2 separate regions of the Homo sapiens genome follow, and region 2 is linked to region 1. The links come from fine-mapping of genetic effects on gene expression. A gene starts in region 1. The other region holds a variant in brackets. All regions are shown on one strand. Distances are between the middles of the regions.

Region 1 (2,917 bases):
CCTGTAGTCCCAGCTACTCGGGATGCTGAGGCAGAAGAATCGCTTGAACTCGGGAGACGGAGGTTGCAGTGAGCTGAGATCTCACCACTGCACTCCAGCCTGGGTGATAGAGTGAGAATCTGTCTCAAAAACAAACAAAAACAAACAAACAAAAAACAATACAATGGCAAGGGAAGAAATAAAAGGAGGGTGTCTAATGTGGTAAGGAGGGAAGGAAAAATGAAGAAAGAAGAAAAACCTATTGAAAATAGCCAAGAAAACAGCTGCCCTTCTAAGATACTGACTTGAGGGCTTTCAAAATAATGGAAATTATGCTTCACAAAAAATAATCCCAATGGTCATGGTCATTAGAATTTAGAACAATATTTATATGGCTCCCTGTGGTGAATCAACAATTATTTTCTATGGCTTCAATTTTCAGAGTTTAAATAATGAACATAGCAATACCACCAAAGAAACATTCATTAAATATCAATATAAAATAAAGTGGAAGAAAAAGAGAAAAACAGCAAGCTGCTGATTGCAGTGTTTGCAACCGAGACTCTGTTCTGCAAACCCTGGGGGATCAGCGTGGATTGAGCTATTACTAGAGGTTGGGGTTAAACACGGTAGGCTATAGACTTTCTGGGGGAGAAACCAGTCAATTTCTATTCTGAAAACCTGGCACTGCCTAAGAAAATCCAAACCCTTCAAACAGAAGCTTCGCAAGAGTGTAGTTAATGGCATAAAAGAGTGCTCAGAAACTCACCCACAGAGACTTTCTGATAGCTGATGCCAGGAACAGCAAAAAGCAGAATGTCCAGTTAGGGATAGTTAACCAAGCCCCTCTCAATTCTTCTTCTTGAGGCTATCCTCTCCTCACTGGTCCCCATTTTATAATCATGCTCAAGGAGCCTAGGCTTCTCTTCTTCTCTTACAGCATGTTTAATATCACTACTTTATCCATTCTGTACTGTTGCAGGCTGAAGGTGACATTACACTTAGAGGGATCCACAGATTCAAGAGGCTGCTTGGGGAGGGCAGCACAGTGAAGTACAAGGACTTTGACATCAGAGAGGCCTGGATTCAAGTCCCAATTTCTGTGTGTGGTAACCAGTCTGCAAGACAGCCTGTGATGGTTCCTGCCTCCTCGTATTCATGTCCTTCTTAGTTCCCTTGCGCATTGAATCAGGGCTGGCTCTGGGTGACCAATAGAATGTGGAGGAAGTGATGGGGTGTGAATTCCGAGGCTAGGTCACAAAAGGCATTGTATCTTCCACCTCTTAGATCTCTCTCTCTGCGGAAGCCAGCCACCGCTCTCCAAGGACTCTCGAGCAGCTCCATCTACAGATTCACATGGAGAAGAATTAAGGGTTCCTGCCAATCACCAGCACCACTTTGCCAGCCTTGTAAGTGGGCCACCTTGGAATTGGAGCCTCCAGTTCCTACTGACATCTGACTGCAACATCATGAGAGACCCTGAGTTTGAACCACCCAGCTGAGCTGCTTCTGAGCTAACCCACTGAAACCGTGAGAAATAATTATTGTTTCAAATCCTAAATTTGGGAGTGATATGTTATATAGCCATATTAACAAGAACTTAACCTAAGTATTGGGGGCATTTAGGGCTGATATTCATTTGGGAGGCACCTGTACAGCTGTATCAATTGTTCAATTATTTAAATATTTCTAAGTTGCTTGGTAAAAAGTCCTGTGCTTGAATTAACCTGATCTTGAATTGCAAGCTCCCTGAGGTGCCTTGCAAAGACAAATCAAATCCTCCTCAGAGGAAGGTAACATTATCCTTGCCCTCAAATTATTTCAACAAGTATTTTACAAATACCATGTTCAGCACACAACCAAAGATAAACTGACATATGGTTAAAAACAGAATGTTTTTAGACACCCAGAAGACATCCTTCACTGAGGGCTTATGTGATAGAAAAATTAAGCATATGATGACAATGGATTCAGTGTATGGCCCGGAGAAAGAAACCAAAAGTTGGGAAAGGTGTAAATGGCCCTAATGGGAAAGGAAAGAGGCTTCCATTGCTTCCCAAGACTGGGACCCATCTCTAAGAATCACAGAGAACAAATCTGTCTCCTTGCTGTTCTCCAGAGGGTAGTTGGACCTCAGATGGGTTAACCAGAGAACCAGGACCCCCAGAGCGCAAACTCCCATTTTTCTGAACATTCCCATGTCCAAGTTTGTCTGGAGAACATCCAAGTTGCCTCTTCAAGGTAGCCGGCGCCATGGACCTTTAAAAGGGACCAAAGTGTTCAGAGGACCAGGAATCCTTACTTGAATGTTCTAGACTGCAAGACACCTAGAGATTCGTAGAAAACATGACTGAGGGAAAGTGCTCCTCTAACCTGAAGGATGGAGACTTAGACCAGCTAGTATCAGATTGAGGGGAAAAAATGAGGTTTTGTTTTTTTTTTCACCAAGTATGTAAAAAAATTAAAACCCACTGTAGAATATTAGCAAGATCTTCAACAAGTCTCTCATTATACAGATGAGGAAATTAAGAACCAGGAGGTTAGAAATTCAGTCCCAGCATGCTGACTCACAGAACATATGTGGACTTTTCTTATACTCCACTGCTCTGATGAATATTGTTAAACACTATTTCTTCCTTACTCTTAGGATATCAGGGCCTTGAATGTCACAGACTACCTGGCACTTGTTTCCCAACAAGCTAATATTGACCCACACAAACTGAAAGCCTCAATTTGACATTATTTGTAGCATCCCCTTGTCCTTTTCTTTCTAAACCCAAATTCCAGTATCCACTGCAACCTTCTAGGTAGGCATCCGCAAAAGGTCTTTCTTCTGATCCTGCCAACTCATCATGGTGCATGGTTTTGAGTAGTGCCATAGAGAATATCTTAATTTCTCTGAGCTTTAGTTAAGAGTGATATACACTGGAAACAAGGA
Region 2 (2,917 bases), 160 kb after region 1:
TCTCCTACATGTGGCTAGCCAATTATCCCAGCACCATTTGTTGAAAAGGGTGTCCTTTCCCCTCTTTATGTTTTTGTTTGCTTTGTTGAAGATCAGTTGGCTGTATGTATCTGGGTTTATTTCTGGGTTCTCTATTCTGTTTCATTGGTCTATGTGCCTATTTTTATACCAATACCATGCTGTTTTGGTGACTATGGCCTTACAATATAGTTTGAAATCAGGTAGTGTGATGCCTCCAAATTCGTTCTTTTTGCTTAGTCTTGCTTTGGCTATGTGGGCTATTTTTTGGCTCCATATGAATTTTAGAATTGTTTTCTAATTCTGTGAAGAATGATGGTGGTATTTTTATGGGGATTGTGTTGAATTTATAGATTGCTTTTTGCAGCATGGTCATTTTCACAATATTGATTCTACCCACCCATGAGCCTGGGATGTGTTTCCATTTGTTTGTGTTGTCTGTGATTTCTTTCAGCAGTGCTTTGTAGTTTTCCTTGTAGAGGTCTTTCACCTCCTTGATTAAGTATATTCCTAAGTATTTCCATTTTTTTGCAGCTATTGTAAAAGGAATGAGTTCCTGATTTGATTATCCGCTTGGTCGCTGTTGGTGTATAGAAGAGCTACTGATTTGTGTACATTAATCTTGTATCCGGAAGCTTTGCTGAATTCTTTTATCAGGTTTAGGAGATTTCTGGAGGAGTTTTTAGGGTTTTCGAGGTAAATGATCATATCGTCAGCAAAAAATGACAGTTTGACTTCCTCTTTACCAATTTGGATGCCCTTTATTTCTTTCTCTTGTCTGATTACTCTGGCTAGGACTTCCAGTACTATGTTGAAGAGGAGTAGCGAGAGTGGGCATCCTTGTCTTGTTCCCATTCTCAAAGGGAAAGCTTTCAACTTTTCCCCCATTAGTATTATGTTGGCTGTGGGTTTGTCATAGATGGCTTTTATTACATTGAGGTATGTCCCTTGTATGCCGATTTTGCTGAGAGTTTTAATCATAAAGCGATGCTGGATTTTGTTGAATGCTTTGTCTGCATCTATTGAGATGATCATGAGATTTTTGTTTCTAATTCTATTTATGTGGTGTATCACATCTATTGACTTGCATATGTTAAACCATCCCTGAATCCCTTGTATAAAACCCACTTGGTCATTGTGGATTATCTTTTTGATATGTTGTTGGATTAAGTTAACTAGTATTTTGTTAAGGATTTTACCATCCATGTTCATTAGTGATATCAGTCTGTAATTTTCTTTTTTGGTTATGTTCTTTTCTGGTTTTGGTATTAGGGTGATGCCAGCTTCATAGGATGAATTAGGGAG[G/A]GTTCCTTGTTTCTCTCTCTTGTGGAATAGTGTCAATAGGATTGATACCAATTCTTCTTTGAATGTCTAGTAGAATTCTGCTGTGAATCCCTCTGGTCCTGGACTTTTTTTGTTGGTAATGTTTTAATTACCATTTCAATCTTGCGGCTTGTTATTGGCCTGTTCAGGGTATCTAACTCTTCCTGATTTAAGCTAGGAGGGTTGTATTTTCCAGGAATTTATCCATCTTTTCTAGGTTTTCTTTTTTTCTTTCTTTTTTTTTTTTTTTGACAGAGTCTCGCTCTGTCACACAGGCTGGAGTGCAGTGGCGCAAGCTCCACTCACTGCAAGCTCTACCTCCTGGGTTCACGCCATTCTCCTGCCTCAGCCTCCTGAGTAGCTGGGACTACAGGCACCTGCCACCACACCAGGCTAATTTTTTGTATTTTTAGTAGAGACGGGGTTTCATCGTGTTAGCCAGGATGGTGTCAATCTGCTGACCTCTTGATCCGCCCGCCTAGGCCTCCCAACATCTTTTCTAGGTTTTCTAGTTTATGTGTACAAAGGTGTTCATAGTAGCCTTGAATGATCTTTTGTATTTCAGTGGTGTCAGTTGTAATATCTCCTGTTTCATTTCTTAGTGAGGTTATTTGGATTTTCTCTCTTCTTTTCTTGGTTAATTTTGCTAATGGTCTATCAATTTTATGTATCTTTTCAAAGAACCAGCCTTTTCGTTTCATTTATCTTTTGTATTTTTTTGTTTGTTTGTTTCAATTTCATTTAGTTCTTCTTTAATGTTGGTTATTTCCTTTCTTCTGCTGGGTTTGGGTTTGGTTTGTTCTTGTTTCTCTAGTTCCTTGAGGTGTAACCTTAGAATGTCAGTTTGTGCTGTCAGTCTTTTTGATGTAGATATTTTAGGGCTATGAACTTTCCTCTTAGCACCACCGTTGCTCTATCCCAGGGGTTTTGATAGGTTGTGTCACTATTGTCATTCAGTCTGAAGAATTTTTTAATTTCCATCTTGATTTTGTTTTTGACCCAGTGATCATTCAGGAGCAGATTATTTAATTTCCATATATTCGCATGGTTTTGAAGGTTCCTTTTGGAGTTAATTTTTAGTTTTATTCCACTGTGGTCTAAGAGAGTACTTGATATAATTTTAATTTTCTTAAATTTATTGAGGCTCGTTTTGTGGCCTATCATATGGTCCATCTTGGAGAAAATTCCATGCACTGTTGAATATAATGTGTATTCTGGGGTTGTTGGATGGAATGTTCTGTATGTATCTGTTAAATCCATTTGTTCCAAGGTATAGTTTAAATCCATTTTTCTTTGTTGACTTTCTGTCTTGATGATCTGTCTATCATTGTCAGTGGAGTATTGAAGTCTCTCACTATTATTATGTTGCTGTCTATCTCATTTCTTAGGTCTATTAGTAATTGTTTTATAATTTTGGGAGCTCCAGTTTTAGGTGCATATGTGTTTAGGATTGTGATATTTTCCTGTTGGACAAGGCCTTTAACCATTATATAATGTCCCTCTTTGTCTTTTTTAACTGCTGTTGCTTTAAAGTTTGTTTTGTCTGATACAAGAATAGCTACCTCTGCTTGCTTTT

The links.
Region 2: its variant is fine-mapped to the expression of LINC00658 in nucleus accumbens (GTEx, PIP above 0.99).

The regions. Positions count from the first base shown.
Region 1 is chr20:5,444,096-5,447,012 of GRCh38, reverse strand. LINC00658 (long intergenic non-protein coding RNA 658) reads left to right here and starts at 1,265. Exons shown (of 5, transcript NR_038240.1): 1 at 1,265-1,509.
Region 2 is chr20:5,284,845-5,287,761 of GRCh38, reverse strand. No RefSeq gene overlaps it. Among named protein-coding and RNA genes, the nearest start is that of PROKR2, 31 kb to the left of the region's middle. The variant G/A (reference allele first, on the strand shown) is at 1,324.